2 separate regions of the Homo sapiens genome follow, and region 1 is linked to region 2. Evidence: fine-mapped expression QTL. A gene starts in region 2. The other region holds a variant in brackets. All regions are shown on one strand. Distances are from middle to middle. Region 1 holds the start of LOC124901609 (a long non-coding RNA gene). Region 2 holds the start of GARS1 (glycyl-tRNA synthetase 1).

Region 1 (8,838 bases), 47 kb after region 2:
AAAGCATGGGTCTTTCTGGCTTAATGCTCTTTGAGGCCTTTTAAATTATTTATATACCTGTACGTACCGGACTGTGGGCTTAACAAGAGTGAGATAAATAGCATTGTATCTTGGAGAAGTTACTCCTGTTTATTACTTCTCCCAAAAATGATGGGGGAAGGTCAGATTCTTTTTTTTTTTTTTCTTGTGCTTAGTGCCAAATTTTATTTTTCTTTGGAAGACTGACATTAAACGTGAGAAAAACAAAGGATAACAAAAATTATCTTTATTTTCAAAATAACTTTACTAAACTATACTGATTACAAATAATACAGTCTAATGAAAACAAAGCCACTTAAAAAAGTTTAAAGAAGACATGTATGTGTAATTTTCTCATATAATTAACACTTTAAATTATTTTACAGAGTGTCATTTTAGAAATGGGTTGATACTATTTTGAATTATAGAATTAAAGTATGATCAGCATCTAATACAAAAACATACAATTAGATATTTTCTATTTTTCTGCTTTTAACTATTATTTAAGAATTTAATCTTTTTAGATTAGCCATCAGGGAAAATATATAGAATCACGGTATTCATTTATTATGTATATGAGGAAATTAACACCTTTATAATAACTCTCATGCTTTTTTCCTGAAAATTTTCTTTTTTTTTTTTAATTATACTTTAAGTTTTAGGGTACATGTGCACATTGTGCAGGTTAGTTACATACGTATACGTGTGCCATGCTGGTGCACTGCACCCACTAACTCGTCATCTAGCATTAGGTATATCTCCCAATGCTATACCTCCCCCCTCCCCCCACCCCACAACAGTCTCCAGTGTGATATTCCCCTTCCTGTGTCCATCTGTTCTCATTGTTCAATTCCCACCTATGAGTGAGAATATGCGGTGTTTGGTTTTTTGTTCTTGCAATAGTTTACTGAGAATGATGTTTTCCAATTTCATCCATGTCCCTACAAAGGACATGAACTCATCATTTTTTATGGCTGCATAGTATTCCATGGTGTATATGTGCCACATTTTCTTAATCCAGTCTATCATTGTTGGACATTTGGGTTGGTTCCAAGTCTTTGCTATTGTGAATAATGCCGCAATAAACATACATGTGCATGTGTCTTTATAGCAGCATGATTTATAGTCCTTTGGGTATATACCCAGTAATGGGATGGCTGGGTCAAATGGTATTTCCAGTTCTAGATCCCTGAGGAATCGCCACACTGACTTCCACAATGGTTGAACTAGTTTACAGTCCCACCAACAGTGTAAAAGTGTTCCTATTTCTCCACATCCTCTCCAGCACCTGTTGTTTCCTGACTTTTTCATGATTGCCATTCTAACTGGTGTGAGATGGTATCTCATTGTGGTTTTGATTTGCATTTCTCTGATGGCCAGTGATGATGAGCATTTTTTCATGTGTTTTTTGGCTGCATAAATGTCTTCTTTTGAGAAGTGTCTGTTCATGTCCTTCGCCCACTTTTTGATGGGGTTGTTTGTTTTTTTCTTGTAAATTTGTTTGAGTTCATTGTAGATTCTGGATATTAGCCCTTTGTCAGATGAGTAGGTTGCGAAAATTTTCTCCCATGTTGTAGGTTGCCTGTTCACTCTGATGGTAGTTTCTTTTGCTATGCAGAAGCTCTTTAATTTAATTAGATCCCATTTGTCAATTTTGTCTTTTGTTGCCATTGCTTTTGGTGTTTTAGACATGAAGTCCTTGCCCATGCCTATGTCCTGAATGGTAATGCCTAGGTTTTCTTCTAGGGTTTTTATGGTTTTAGGTCTAACGTTTAAGTCTTTAATCCATCTTGAATTGATTTTTGTATAAGGTGTAAGGAAGGGATCCAGTTTCAGCTTTCTACATATGGCTAGCCAGTTTTCCCAGCACCATTTATTAAATAGGGAATCCTTTCCCCATTGCTTGTTTTTCTCAGGTTTGTCAAAGATCAGATAGTTGTAGATATGCGGCGTTATTTCTGAGGGCTCTGTTCTGTTCCATTGATCTATATCTCTGTTTTGGTACCAGTACCATGCTGTTTTGGTTACTGTAGCCTTGTAGTATAGTTTGAAGTCAGGTAGCGTGATGCCTCCAGCTTTGTTCTTTTGGCTTAGGATTGCCTTGGCGATGCGGGCTCTTTTTTGGTTCCATATGAACTTTAAAGTAGTTTTTTCCAATTCTGTGAAGAAAGTCATTGGTAGCTTGATGGGGATGGCATTGAATCTGTAAATTACCTTGGGCAGTATGGCCATTTTCACGATATTGATTCTTCCTACCCATGAGCATGGAATGTTCTTCCATTTGTTTGTATCCTCTTTTATTTCCTTGAGCAGTGGTTTGTAGTTCTCCTTGAAGAGGTCCTTCACATCCCTTGTAAGTTGGATTCCTAGGTATTTTATTCTCTTTGAAGCAATTGTGAATGGGAGTTCACTCATGATTTGGCTCTCTGTTTGTCTGTTGTTTGGTGTATAAGAATGCTTGTGATTTTTATACATTGATTTTGTATCCTGAGACTTTGCTGAAGTTGCTTATCAGCTTAAGGAGATTTTGGGCTGAGACAACGGGGTTTTCTAGATATACAATCATGTCGTCTGCAAACAGGGACAATTTGACTTCCTCTTTTCCTAATTGAATACCCTGTATTTCCTTCTCCTGCCTAATTGCCCTGGCCAGAACTTCCAACACTATGTTGAATAGGAGTGGTGAGAGAGGGCATCCCTGTCTTGTGCCAGTTTTCAAAGGGAATGCTTCCAGTTTTTGCCCATTCAGTATGATATTGGCTGTGGGTTTGTCATAGATAGCTCTTATTATTTTGAAATACGTCCTATCAATACCTAATTTATTGAGAGTTTTTAGCATGAAGGGTTGTTGAATTTTGTCAAAGGCTTTTTCTGCATCTATTGAGATAATCATGTGGTTTTTGTCTTTGGCTCTGTTTATATGCTGGATTACATTTATTGATTTGCGTATATTGAACCAGCCTTGCATCCCAGGGATGAAGCCCACTTGATCATGGTGGATAAGCTTTTTGATGTGCTGCTGGATTCGGTCTGCCAGTATTTTATTGAGGATTTTTGCATCAATGTTCATCAAGGATATTGGTCTAAAATCCTCTTTTTTTGTTGTGTCTCTGCCTGGCTTTGGTATCAGAATGATGTTGGCCTCATAAAATGAGTTAGGGACGATTCCCTCTTTTTCTATTGATTGGAATAGTTTCAGAAGGAATGGTACCAGTTCCTCCTTGTACCTCTGGTAGAATTCAGCTGTGAATCCATCTGGTCCTGGACTCTTTTTGGTTGGTAAGCTATTGATTATTGCCACAATTTCAGATCCTGTTATTGGTCTATTCAGAGATTCAACTTCTTCCTGGTTTAGTC[G/T]TGGGAGAGTGTATGTGTCGAGGAATTTATCCATTTCTTCTAGATTTTCTAGTTTATTTGCGTAGAGGTGTTTGTACTATTCTCTGATCGTAGTTTGTATTTCTGTGGGATCGGTGGTGATATCCCCTTTATCATTTTTTATTGCGTCTATTAGATTCTTCTCTTTTTTTCTTTATTAGTCTTGCTAGCGGTCTATCAGTTTTGTTGATCCTTTCAAAAAACCAGCTCCTGGATTCATTAATTTTTTGAAGGGTTTTTTGTGTCTCTATTTCCTTCAGTTCTGCTCTGATCTTAGTTATTTCTTGCCTTCTGCTAGCTTTTGAATGTGTTTGCTCTTGCTTTTCTAGTTCTTTTAATTGTGATGTTAGGGTGTCAATTTTGGATCTTTCCTGCTTTCTCTTGTGGACATTTAGTGCTATAAATTTCCCTCTACACACTGCTTTGAATGCGTCCCAGAGATTCTGGTATGTTGTGTCTTTGTTCTCATTGGTTTCAAAGAACATCTTTATTTCTGCCTTCATTTCGTTATGTACCCAGTAGTCATTCAGGAACAGGTTGTTCAGTTTCCATGCAGTTGAGCGGTTTTGAGTGAGATTCTTAATCCTGAGTTCTAGTTTGATTGCACTGTGGTCTGAGAGATAGTTTGTTATAATTTCTGTTCTTTTACATTTGCTGAGGAGAGCTTTACTTCCAAGTATGTGGTCAATTTTGGAATAGGTGTGGTGTGGTGCTGAAAAAAATGTATATTCTGTTGATTTGGGGTGGAGAGTTCTGTAGATGTCTATTAGGTCTGCTTGGTGCAGAGCTGAGTTCAATTCCTGGGTATCCTTGTTGACTTTCTGTCTCATTGATCTGTCTAATGTTGACAGTGGGGTGTTAAAGTCTCCCATTATTAATGTGTGGGAGTCTAAGTCTCTTTGTAGGTCACTCAGGACTTGCTTTATGAATCTGGGTGCTCCTGTATTGGGTGCATATATATTTACGATAGTTAGCTCTTCTTGTTGAATTGATCCCTTTACCATTATGTAATGGCCTTCTTTGTCTCTTTTGATCTTTGTTGGTTTAAAGTCTGTTTTATCAGAGACTAGGATTGCAACCCCTGCCTTTTTTTGTTTTCCATTTGCTTGGTAGATCTTCCTCCATCCTTTTATTTTGAGCCTATGTGTGTCTCTGCACGTGAGATGGGTTTCCTGAATACAGCACACTGATGGGTCTTGAGTCTTTATCCAATTTGCCAGTCTGTGTCTTTTAATTGGAGCATTTAGTCCATTTACATTTAAAGTTAATATTGTTATGTGTGAATTTGATCCTGTCATTATGATGTTAGCTGGTGATTTTGCTCATTAGTTGATGCAGTTTCTTCCTAGTCTCGATGGTCTTTACATTTTGGCATGATTTTGCAGCGGCTGGTACCGGTTGTTCCTTTCCATGTTTAGCGCTTCCTTCAGGAGCTCTTTTAGGGCAGGCCTGGTGGTGACAAAATCTCTCAGCATTTGCTTGTCTGTAAAGTATTTTATTTCTCCTTCGCTTATGAAGCTTAGTTTGGCTGGATATGAAATTCTGGGTTGAAAATTCTTTTCTTTAAGAATGTTGAATATTGGCCCCCACTCTCTTCTGGCTTGTAGGGTTTCTGCCGAGAGATCTGCTGTTAGTCTGATGGGCTTCCCTTTGAGGGTAACCCAACCTTTCTCTCTGGCTGCCCTTAACATTTTTTCCTTCATTTCAACTTTGGTGAATCTGACAATTATGCGTCTTGGAGTTGCTCTTCTCGAGGAGTATCTTTGTGGCGTTCTCTGTATTTCCTGAATCTGAACGTTGGCCTGCCTTGCTAGATTGGGGAAGTTCTCCTGGATAATATCCTGCAGAGTGTTTTCCAACTTGGTTCCATTCTCCCCATCACTTTCAGGTACACCAATCAGACATAGATTTGGTCTTTTCACATAGTCCCATATTTCTTGGAGGCTTTGCTCGTTTCTTTTTATTCTTTTTTCTCTAAACTTCCCTTCTCGCTTCATTTCATTCATTTCATCTTCCATCGCTGATACCCTTTCTTCCAGTTGATCGCATTGGCTCCTGAGGCTTCTGCATTCTTCACGTAGTTCTCGAGCCTTGGTTTTCAGCTCCATCAGCTCCTTTAAGCACTTCTCTGTATTGGTTATTCTAGTTATACATTCTTCTAAATTGTTTTCAAAGTTTTCAACTTCTTTGCCTTTGGTTTGAATGTCCTCCCGTAGCTCAGAGTAATTTGATCATCTGAAGCCTTCTTCTCTCAGCTCGTCAAAGTCATTCTCCATCCAGCTTTGTTCAGTTGCTGGTGAGGAACTGCGTTCCTTTGGAGGAGGAGAGGCACTCTGCATTTTAGGGTTTCCAGTTTTTCTGTTCTGTTTTTTCCCCATCTTTGTGGTTTTATCTACTTTTGGTCTTTGATGATGGTGATGTACAGATGGGTTTTTGGTGTGGATGTCCTTTCTGTTTATTAGTTTTCCTTCTAACAGACAGGACCCTCAGCTGCAGGTCTGTTGGAATACCCTGCCGTGTGAGGTGTCAGTGTGCCCCTGCTGGGGGGTGCCTCCCAGTTAGACTGCTCGGGGGTCAGGGGTCAGGGACCCACTTGAGGAGGCAGTCTGCCCGTTCTCAGATCTCCAGCTGCGTGCTGGGAGAACCACTGCTCTCTTCAAAGCTGTCAGACAGGGACATTTAAGTCTGCAGAGGTTACTGCTGTCTTTTTGTTTGTGCCCTGCCCCCAGAGGTGGAGCCTACAGAGGCAGGCAGGCCTCCTTGACCTGTGGTGGGCTCCACCCAGTTCGAGCTTCCCAGCTGCTTTGTTTACCTAATCAAGCCTGGGCAATGGCGGGCGCCCCTCCCCCAGCCTCGCTGCCGCCTTGCAGTTTGATCTCAGACTGCTGTGCTAGCAATCAGCGAGATTCCGTGGGCGTAGGACCCTCCGAGCCAGGTGCGGGATATAGTCTCCTGGTGCGCCGTTTTTTAAGCCCGTCGGAAAAGCGCAGTATTCGGGTGGGAGTGACCCGATTTTCCAGGTGCCGTCCGTCACCCCTTTCTTTGACTCGGAAAGGGAACTCCCTGACCCCTTGCGCTTCCCAAGTGAGGCAATGCCTCGCCCTGCTTCGGCTCGCGCACGGTGCGTGCACCCACTGACCTGCGCCCACTGTCTGGCGCTCCCTAGTGAGATGAACCCGGTACCTCAGATGGAAATGCAGAAATCACCGTCTTCTGCGTCGCTCACGCTGGGAGCTGTAGACCGGAGCTGTTCCTATTCGGCCATCTTGGCTCCTCCAGGAAGGTCAGATTCTAACTAATTTCCATGGACTGTTATGTAAGAACACAGGAATTAGATTTTTAATACTTAGGTTGGAATTCAGGCATTCAGTCAAATGCAATGTGGAGTTACTTCAGAGAGGCTATCTGCCTGGCTTCTGCAGGAGTCCACCACCTTAATATTGCCCAACAGCTCATAATAGCAAAATGGTGGATATAGATGGTGTTCCAGAAAAGGAATTCATCACCAAGTCTAAAGAACATGGAAATAATCTTACTGTTTTCATGAGCTGGTACTAAAGATGTCAGACGTCTCAAGTTCTTTGTGATAAGAACTTGCAAAATCGTTTTTTTCATTAGAAGTCACATGAAGTAGATTCATTCTAGACCTTTATTTACTACTCCCTTAACCAGTGTAATTGCAGGGTAATGGCAGCAACTGTCTTAGTCAGTGGAGTCTATTCCTTGAGAGGGCTGGATGCCCTAGAGATAAATCCAAATTATCTCTGGTTATAGTTGCCCTGAAATGAACCTTCTTTCCCAAAGGAAAACTATTATCTGTATCTCTTGGGCTGGGCTAGGATGGAGAGGCTTTGAGAGCATTGCTTGCACCGGCATCTTTGCTGATAGTCTGACAATGTTTAAGGCAGGTGTTTGTGGCATTTGGCCAACACCAAAGTGAAATTTAGTTGAAGATTCAGTAAGTAAGTGGATGACTAATTTTGCTGTGCCTCAATGTTCGCCTGTTGTTGCCTGTTCAATAATTCTTGGTTATTGAGCTGCCTCTAAGCAGTAATTTAGTTAAGGCTGTGTGGATATCTGGAGGACTGTCTCCTCTAGAAATTGGGATGTGATTTGGGAGTATCACCAGGGGTTGCCTGAGAGGCGCAGCCTGCAGCTTCGCCCTCTTGGCTAAGAGCCCCTTCACTTTTGCTGGCAACATGCCCCCCTCTTGCTGGATGGGCTATCTTCCTTTCGTGTTGAAGGACACACCTTTGAAAATTTGTTGCCTCAGTAAAAGATGTTGGGGCAGTGGTTCTCAACCCTGGCTGCACATTAAAGTAACTTGAGCTTTAAAAAAAAACTCATGTCTGGGCTCCTCCTTAAACCAATTTAATGAGTTGAGGGTGGAGCCTGGGCATCAGTATATTAAGTCTCTTAGGAGAAGCACCACTACCACTGTTGCACCTTGTGAACTTTCTAGCTGTGTGAAAGGCTGGACCCATTGCTCTCTCAAAAGGGGTTTCCTCTGAGAATATGAATGTGTAGGACATTGTATCCAGTGAGACAGTTAGAGAAGTAGATGTGAGAGTGGGGAAGTGAGCAGTAGGATTTCTGTTTTCCCGGGGAATTTTAGGGAACCTTATTCTTGCTGGATGAGGGTAGTGGTGCCAAAGAGCAGAGGGGTGCTGTGAGCTCTGGGCCAGAAATAAAGTAAGCTGGCTTCTTGTCCTGACTCTTCTAGTGTCTGAACTTAATGATAGTTTCAGGAACTTGAGGCTAGGAAGAGAGAGCCCTTCTCTCTTTGGGAGCCAAAGCTCTCTGCACTCCTTTTTTTAATGTGCAAGACTTAGTGCACAAGTGAGCCTGCATAGAATTTGCCAGCCTATGCCTGCGTTTGCTGGGTCTTAAAACTCAATCACCAATAATTAGCACAAAAGCAGTTATGCTAACGAAAACAATTTAGGCAAATTGAAAGCTTTTTGGGCTCATCAAAACTCACTGTTCTGCATCTAAGTGTGAACTAATTGATAGAGAGATTAAGTACAGTGAAATTGTGGGAAAGAAAAAACCCACTGGCAAGCTTTAGAAAGTCTTTTGTTTTTTAAAAAAAACTTGAGCCCAGATTTTCCATTTTTTTGTCCAGCCTGTCAACTCCACCTGCACTCTATATCAGAATTGGGCCTACTTGTCACCACCTTCGTGGCCACCAGCTTGGGGCAAGCTGCCATCATCACCCATCTGGTTTACTGCAAAAGACTTGCCTGAACTCCCTGTTCGTGCCCTTGCCCCTTCATCAGCAGTTTTCCACCTGGCACCAGACTGCATTGGTCCTCAAAACTCAGTGGCCTTCCTTACCTTTCCTTTCCTTTTTCCTTTCCCCTTTCCTTTCCTTCTCTTTCTTTCTTTTTCTTTCTTTCAGATGGAGTCTTGCTCTATCGCCCAGGCTGGAGTGCAATGGCGCCA
Region 2 (8,838 bases):
AGTACTTTGAACTAAATGAAAATGAAAACAATGTATCAAAAATTTGTGGATTTAACTAAAGCAGTAAGTAGAAGGAAATCTATAATTTCAAATGTTTGTCTTAGAAGAAAGGCTTATAAATTTTCATATTGAGAAGCTAAAAAAGAAGAGCAAATTAAACCCAGAGTAAGTAAAAAGGAAAACATTATAAAGATAAAAGTGGAAATCAATGGAATAGAAAATAGACAAAATAATAGAGAACATTAACAAACCCAAAACTTTTATGTTTAACAAAATTGATAAAATTGGTAAGCTTTTAGCAAGACTAATCAAGAAAAGAGAGGGAGAGAAAAAAACTAATTACTGGTATCAGGAATGAAAGAGGAGATTTCATTCCAGATCTTATACATATATTCAAATAATACTACTGGAATATTATGAACAACTTTAAAACAATAAATCTGATAACTTATATGAAATGGCCAGATTCCCTGAAAAACAAAACTTACCAAAAGTGGCAAAAGATGAAATAGAAAGCATGGATGGCTCTGCAACTGCAAAAAAACTTTTCCACAAAGAAAACTCCAGAATTCACTGGTGAATTCTATCAAATGGTTATGGAAGAAATGATAACAATCTTACAAATATTGAAATTTCAGAAAATAGAGAAGAAAGAAACTCTGATTTTATAAAGCCAGGCCAAAACCTGGCAAAGATACAAGAAAAGAAAACAATACACTGATTGCCTGTATGTTCATTTTTCATGAACATACAGGCAAAAATCTTTATCAAGATGTTAGTAAATAAAATCCAGCAGAATATAAGAAAGACAAAACCAAGTTGAATTTGTTAGCATTACACTAAATGGAGAAACATTGAACACTTTTCCCTCTAATATCAGGAACAAGGCAAGATGTTCATTCACTGCTTCTATTCAATATTGTGCAAGATGACCTAGACTACGCAACCACACAAGTAAAAGAAAAAGGCATAAATATTGGAAAGAAAGAAGTAAAACTGATTCTATTTACAAAGTATATGCATATTAATACAGAAAATCCTAAGGAATCGGCCGGGCGCGGTGGCTCACGCCTGTAATCCCAGCACTTTGGGAGGCCGAGGCGGGTGGATCATGAGGTCAGGAGATCGAGACCATCCTGGCTAACAAGGTGAAACCCCGTCTCTACTAAAAATACAAAAAATTAGCCGGGCGCGGTGGCGGGCGCCTGTAGTCCCAGCTACTCGGGAGGCTGAGGCAGGAGAATGGCGTGAACCCGGGAAGCGGAGCTTGCAGTGAGCCGAGATTGCGCCACTGCAGTCCGCAGTCCGGCCTGGGCGACAGAGCGAGACTCCGTCTCAAAAAAAAAAGAAAATCCTAAGGAATCTACAACCCCCGCCCCTACAAAACAAATAATAGCACTAATAAGTGAAAGTCTCAATGTCACTATACAAAATCAATTATATTTCTCTACATTAACAGCAAATCAATGGAAAATAAAATAACATTCACAAGACTCAAAGAATAAAATACTTAGGAATATATTTATCAAAATGCATTCAGTGCTTTAAACTATGAATTCTCCCCAAATTAAACTACAGGTTCACAATTCCAGCAGGTATTTTTACAAAGTTGATAAGTCAATTCTAAAATTTATATAGAAATAGAAAGAACCTGGAATAGAAAAACAATTTTGAAAAAGAAGAAAGGGTAGACAATATACATTATTTGACTTCAGGAATTATCCTCAAGCAATAGTCATCAAGGAAGTGTGATACTAGCATAAAGATTGATAGATAAATGGATCATTAGAACAGAATAGAGACCCCAGATATAGGTCCACCTTATATGGTGAACTTATTTTTGACAAAGGCACTAGAGCTGATCAATGGCAGTAATTTTTTGTAAGCCCTACTTTTTTCCAACAAATGATGCTGTAGCAACTGGATATCTATATGGGAAGAATGAACTTTGACTCTTACCTAAAACTATACACAAAAGTTAATTCAAGATGCATCATAGACCTAAACATAAAACTACTAAAATTTTGGACAAAAATATGGGTGAATATCTGAGAGTAGGCAAAGATTTTTTAGAACCCAGAAAAAAAACAAATTGATAAATTAGACTTCATCAAAATTAAAAATTTCTGCTTATCAAAACCATCATTAACAAACAGGCAAGCCACAGACTGGAAGAAAATATTTATGAAACATGTACCTAGCAAAGGACTGTATCCAGCATATCTAAATCTCCTATAATTCAATATTAAAAAGCAAAGACAAAAAATGTGGATGTTTCACAAAAGAAGAGGTACAAATGACCACTAAGCACATGAAAACACAATCAACTCTATTAATCACCAGGAAAATGCATACAAGTCACAATGAGATACAACTATTAGAATAGCTAAAATCTGGAAGGCCGGCAACATCAAATGTTAACAAGGATGTGGAGCAACTAGAACTCTTATATATTGCTCTTAAGAACATAAAATAATACGACCACATTGGAAAAACTTGTGACAATCTAATAAAATTAAATATGCATCTATTGTTTGACTCAGTAATTCCGCACCTAGATATTTACCCAAGAGAAATGAAAACATATAGCTACAAAAAAAGATGTATGAGAATGTTCACAGCAGCATTATTCATAATGGTCTACAATATGAAACAACCCAAATGTCTATCAACTAGTGAATAAATTAATAAATTATAGTATATTCACACAATGGGATACTTCAGAGCAAAAAAGGGCAAGTTTCTGATATGTGAAACAATATGGATTAATCTCTCACACATTATGGTCAATTAAAGACATCAGACACAGAGTACATATTACATTATTTCATTTATACAACAGTCTAGATCTAAGAGGAAAATAAATGAGAATAGTGATCGCCTGGTTGTGGAGGGTGGGATGACCGGGATGACATGCAAGGGAACTTTGTGGAGTCAGGGGAAAATGTTCTTTATCTTGCTTGGTGTTGGGGTTACAAAAGGATATTGCTTTGTCGAAACCCATTGAACTATACATTTTTGTTCATTTTAATGTATGCAAAATTTATTTCCCTCAAAGAAATGAACTTTAATAAAGCAAGAAAAATATATGATCATACATACACAATACTAGGGCCTCTTGCAGGGCACTTAAAGAGCCCAACAGAGAAAGGGGCTAAACTCACTTGAAGCTTCATTAGCTATGTAGAAAATCTGCCTCTGCCCCCAGCTCACATTCTGGCCCAACACTCACTTAGTTGTGTGACCATGGACAAGCTGTTTGATATCTCAGTCCCTTGAATCCCACATGTGAAAATTCTGAATAACTATAGAACCTATCTCACTAAATTGGTGAATAAATTCCATGAGATAAATTAGAACTAACTGGTACATAGTGAGTGCTCAACAAACATAAACTATTATCATTATTGTGCAGACACAGTTTTCAAAAGAAAACTGTTTGGGAAATTCTTCCAAGGGCCATGAAGAGCCTACTGAAGTGTCCTGAGAAGAGAAGGGACACAGTCAGATTTGCCTTTCAGAAATAATGACTGGGCCGAGTGCAGTGGCTCACACCTGTAATCCCAGCACTTTGGAAGGCTGAGGCGGGCGGATCACGAGGTCAGGAGTTCGAGACCAGCATGACCAACATGGTGAAACCTCGTCTCTACTAAAAATAAAAAAATTAGCTGGGTGTGGTGGCGCACGCCTGTAATCCCAGCTACTCAGGAGGCTGAGGCAGGAGAATCGCCTGAACCCGGGAGGCGGAGGTTGCAGTGAGCCAAGATCACGCCACTGCACTCCAGCCTGGGTGAAAGAGCGAGACTCCGTCTGGAAAAAAAAAGAAAAAGAAAAAAGAAAGAAAGAATGACTGAAGCAGCAGTGGGGAGGATGAATTGGTCGGGGAGGAGGGAAGAACGGATTTGGAGTCCTTTCAGGACTGTCCTAACATGAAAATGGATGAGACATTATTGATCTAAGGAATTTTTTAGAAATAAAATAGTTTTATTCAAAGGATATAGAATTTCAACATTTTAATAAAAATCTAAATAAAAATAAAAGTAAAACTTAAAATGATTTTTCACATTTAAAGATATTAAAATAAATTCAAAATTGCCTAGTAAAATAAAAGCCAAATAAATTATAATTAATATCAAATCTTGAAATAAAAGTGTTTAAAAATATAATTGTTCAATATTGCAGAAGGTTCTTAAGCAACCCACCCTGCTCATGTTGAATTGTAAGTACTTCTCCAGAACTGCACACTGGAACGGGAAGAGAAATAACATGGACTTTCACACCATTAGGAAAGGAGACTTCATTATACTGAGCCCGTCTACTCCTGCACACTCCTGGGGTGGGATTGTGGGTCACAGGGAGACGTACGTGCATACTGCCGAAGAGCTCCCAAGTGGCTGGCTGCACCAGTTAACACTCCCCTGAGCAGTGTAGGGGAGTCTCAGAGGGTCACTTGGCATTTTCCATCATTTTCATTTTAGCCATTTTTGCAGGTGTGCGCAATGCTGTTTTTATAACCAACACATCATTTTTCTCTTCCTTTCCTGGAGGGGGAACCCAGCTTTTCTAGGCCCTCCACCCTTTGGGCAGGAGGAACTGGGTGTGTGGGGCGGGGGGAAGCCATCTCTGGGTGGTTGGTCAGCTGGGGCCTAACCACAGGAGGCAGATAGACTGAGGCTATGCCAAGCAGAAAGACTTATCAGGCACCTCTTGCCTTTCCTCATCTCTGCCGGTTCAAATCCTGCTCGCCCCGCAAGGGCAGATTGGAATTTACCTTCTCCAGAAAGCCTGGGGTGACTCTATCCCCTCACTCCTCCTCCCCCGTTCGCCAGCTTTTGTCTTGACATCGGCGGACCAAGAATGTGTGACTCTGGGCAAATCATTAACCTCTCTGGGCCTATTTCCTTATCTGGGGAACATCTGCACTTGAGCAACAGAAGTCTAAGATCCCTATCTGATTTGATGTTTTGCGACCCTTTTAAGGCGCAGGGCGCGAAAGAACAGAAACAGAAGTGTCCGTTCAAGTAGGTCGGCCGGGGTGTCACTCGTATAAAAACCTATGCTTTGAAGGTTCTCGTGTGTCTCGGCCTGCAGGTCTCGCTCAGAGCTGTGTCCCTGAACATCCACCCTGCTGGGGTGGCTTGACGCACTTCTGTGCAAATCTGTTCGCTCGCAACCCTACCTACCTCTCTCCCGAACCGGAGAAAACCTTCGGCGGGGTCCTTCCGGGTTTTGTGTCGAATCTGCGGCGGCGACCCGGCGCCGCGTCACGCGGTGGTGAATGTGCGGCAGCACGCGCGCCGCGTCGTTTACGCGGCGATTTCATCATGCTCCGAGCCGGGCGGCGCGCGCCGCTTCCGTCGCCACCCTCTCTGGACAGCCCAGGGCCGCAGGCTCATGCCCTCTCCGCGTCCAGTGCTGCTTAGAGGTGCTCGCGCCGCTCTGCTGCTGCTGCTGCCGCCCCGGCTCTTAGCCCGACCCTCGCTCCTGCTCCGCCGGTCCCTCAGCGCGGCCTCCTGCCCCCCGATCTCCTTGCCCGCCGCCGCCTCCCGGAGCAGCATGGACGGCGCGGGGGCTGAGGAGGTGCTGGCACCTCTGAGGCTAGCAGTGCGCCAGCAGGTACCGGTGTTTTGCGCTCTCCGCTAAGCCTCCGGCTCTCCTCCCAGGGCCTTCTTCTGGTCATCCTTCCCTCCTCCCCGGGGAACTGTCCTCCTCTTCGGTTACCCCTTTCTTTCCCTTCATCCTCTGGCGTCTTCTTCGCCTCCCCCACTTTGGTCCCAAGTCCCCCGTGCGTCAGCCACCTCCTCTCCCGCGGACCTCCGTCCTCCTCTCTTTTTGGATGACTCCCTGGAACCCCTCCGACTTCCTGCGTCCCTCTCCGGCTCCGTTCTCCCTTCCCCATTCTGTCACAGCCCGCGTCTCCTCTATTTCCAGTGGGGCTGGGATCTGTGACCCTTTGGTTGTCCTCGCCTCCTAACTGAATAACCTTAACTTCAGTTTTCCAGGCTCTGCTGTACTCTTTGTGCACCCTGGGTGGAAAGCCTCCTAATTCTTTCAGTGGTCAATGATGAGCCGAAAAACTGCCGGTTCTTTCGTCTTACGGCCAGGCCCTTTAATCTTTAGGATGCTTTGATAGTGTTTCCCCCTTAACATCTTCCTTCATTCAGTGCTTAGTTTAGCGGAATGATTGGCTGAGAAAATAGAATTGAAATGTGGATGTGGGGAGGTGTCGAACTTTTCTATTAATGCTGTGAACTCATCATCCTTTGCTCTTGTCATCTTTTCTGGCTTCTGAAAAGGCCGTTTGGAACCAGTGAGCCCTCAGATCGTAAACCTGGGAAACTAAGTGTTGCGGAGTGAAGTCAGCCATCCTTAGTATGGAATATTTTGACATTTGATTTTCCCGAAGGTGAGGGAAGGTTTCATGGGCTGAAGGACTTGGTGATTTAATATAGACCTCCTTTTCCTAGGGCACTGCCATAGAGTTTAGAATTTAGAGATATCAAGGAAAAGATTATTTCAGATGATTCCCATATGCAATTAGGGAGAGCCAGAGCTTGCAGTAGGACCCCGGAGATCATGACTTAGTAGTAAACACCAAACGGGTTTCTCCTGCATGGGCGCCTGATGCAATAATTTGCCTTAGCTACAGAGGGTGGAACCCTATCTCGGAAATAATTCATTGGGGCATAGCTGCCGCAAATTCAGCCACTTTGCCATCTGTCCTCTTCGCTGGTTTGAGCCTGACCGATTTTAATAAATAGCCTTTCATTTTGAAATATCACCACGGGCTTAACTTTTTTCTTCATGATTGGTGTCAGAACACCGATTGCATATTCTGTCTCCCTCCACCCACCTTCCACTCCACAAATAAAATTAGGTGTGGTTCCTTTGTCTTTTCTTAACTTGCCATTTTAAAAAATATCCTTCCCTTTAGAAGGAAGCATACAACTAATTTGGAGAAAAAAAAAAACCACCACACCCAAACCCCTCCCTCTGCCACGTTAGCCTGGAACTGCAGTGAAAATCATCCATCGGTAGTTAAGACAGGATCTAGTTAACTAAAGTAAACTTTGATCGCGGCAGCTTTCCGATGCTACTAACTACTGTCTTGTGTATTGTTTATGTTGTCTTGATTATTGTTTTGTACTTTAAGATATTTTCCGAATATACGAGTTAGTTGATTTAAGTTAGTTTGGATATTTTTTTCTAATTTTCCAAGAACACACATATATCAGTTAGTTAATTGTGTGAATTACTGAGTCCTATGTCAGCTGAAAAATAATTTAAAGATGATCTAATTTTACCCATTTTTTGTATATGGGGAAATGAGACACACTGTCACCCCTATCCATTTTGGATAACTCCATTGTGAAGTGCAATTGAAAACCTTTCCGGAGTGGGATTTTTACTTAATGACTGGTCTTGTTAGTAGCACATGTTTCATAGAAATTTGTTAATCTGGAAAATGAATGAAGTGAGTTTGTCACTTTAAGAAAACAACGGTTAGTATTTGTGGCCAATAATAAAATTCAAACTTTGGGGAAATTTTAGAATTTGGGAAGACTCGTATCTTTTGCTGTGAGCTTGGCAGCTTCACAGTCCTTAAAGATATCTGTGATGAGATGAGTGGTGATATTAACAAACGTGGATTTTTTTTTGATAGTATTTGGATAATCTGCGTAACTCAGTGAACCAGTGTTTTCCAGGTGACCAATGCATGATGTTATGAAATCAGGTATTGGTGAAAGAGCCATTCAAAGCTTAAGATACATTAATAGATTTATTCTGACAGTACAAAAAATTCATTGCTATAGTTTCTGAGTTAGAAATAACCTTGAAGAAGCTACCACTTGTCAGAGTTTTGAGGTAGTATCAAAGAATATCCACAATTATCCGAAACGGCTTTTAAAATTATTTTTCCTTTTCCACCTACATATGTCTTTCTTCATATACTTTACCCAGAACGTCATATTACAAAAGAAGCAGACTTTCCACATTGGTCTTTTAGGATTTTTCACAGATTAAGGTTACCAAAATAGTAAGTGCCAAACTCAAAATTTAAAAACCCATGAGGAAACAAGCCACCTTGAGTGAGACTTAGGGGAAATGATAATAGAATTAGATCCTCCAAAAGTATTAGAATAATCACATATTTTTAAAATGCTTAAGATAATTTTTAAAATAAAAGAAGTACTCAAAAACATGAGCAAAGAACAAGAGACTACCAAAAACAATCACACAGTGTGAAAATGAAGCACATATTGTATGGAAATGGATCACTGAAATTAGAAACTCTGTTGGGTGCCCAAGGGCTATATCAATTTAACAACTTTAATTACTCAGCTGAAAGTTTTTCATCCTATATAGGTAATATTTTGTTTGTTTACTCAGATGACCTATTCCACCATATTACTATAAATATGGAATTAGTATAAGTTGTTGGAAGTTAATAAAATAATTCAGAAATATTAGCAAGGAAAAAATTCCAACTGTAAAGAGAAAGGCAAAGGAAGATGAGCCAGCAGTGACTGAGAAGAATGGTCAGAGAAGTGGGAGGAAAACTGAATAATGTTTTTATTTTTTTTTGTAAGCGAGAGGAGAGAGATTTAAGAAGGTGGTCAATTTATTGGTTCTTCTGTGTTCTCAGTACAAATCTTGCTCTTTCCTACTTTTTAATCAATGCTTTTGTCTCCTCCTTTTTCACCCCTCTATACCCAAAGGAAAAAATTCACCATGTGAGCAGTTATTTGTTAACTTGCCCGTGTGTTCTTCTAGATTATTAAATGAAGAGGGCAGAGACCTTGATTCATAATGATCACTCACATAATAAACATTTGA

Evidence for each region. PIP is the estimated chance that this variant, and not a neighbour inherited with it, causes the effect.
Region 1: its variant is fine-mapped to the expression of GARS1 in whole blood (TOPMed, PIP 0.93).

The regions. Positions count from the first base shown.
Region 1 is chr7:30,636,161-30,644,998 of GRCh38, forward strand. LOC124901609 (a long non-coding RNA gene) reads left to right here and starts at 6,156. Exons shown (of 2, transcript XR_007060276.1): 1 at 6,156-6,676. RefSeq lists an enhancer at 5,647-6,342. The variant G/T (reference allele first, on the strand shown) is at 3,376.
Region 2 is chr7:30,589,528-30,598,365 of GRCh38, forward strand. It overlaps GARS1 (glycyl-tRNA synthetase 1), which reads left to right and starts at 5,351. Exons shown (of 17, transcript NM_002047.4): 1 at 5,351-5,616. The coding sequence starts at 5,395. RefSeq lists enhancers at 4,806-5,419, 5,050-5,399, 5,420-6,033, 6,034-6,647 and a silencer at 6,543-6,642.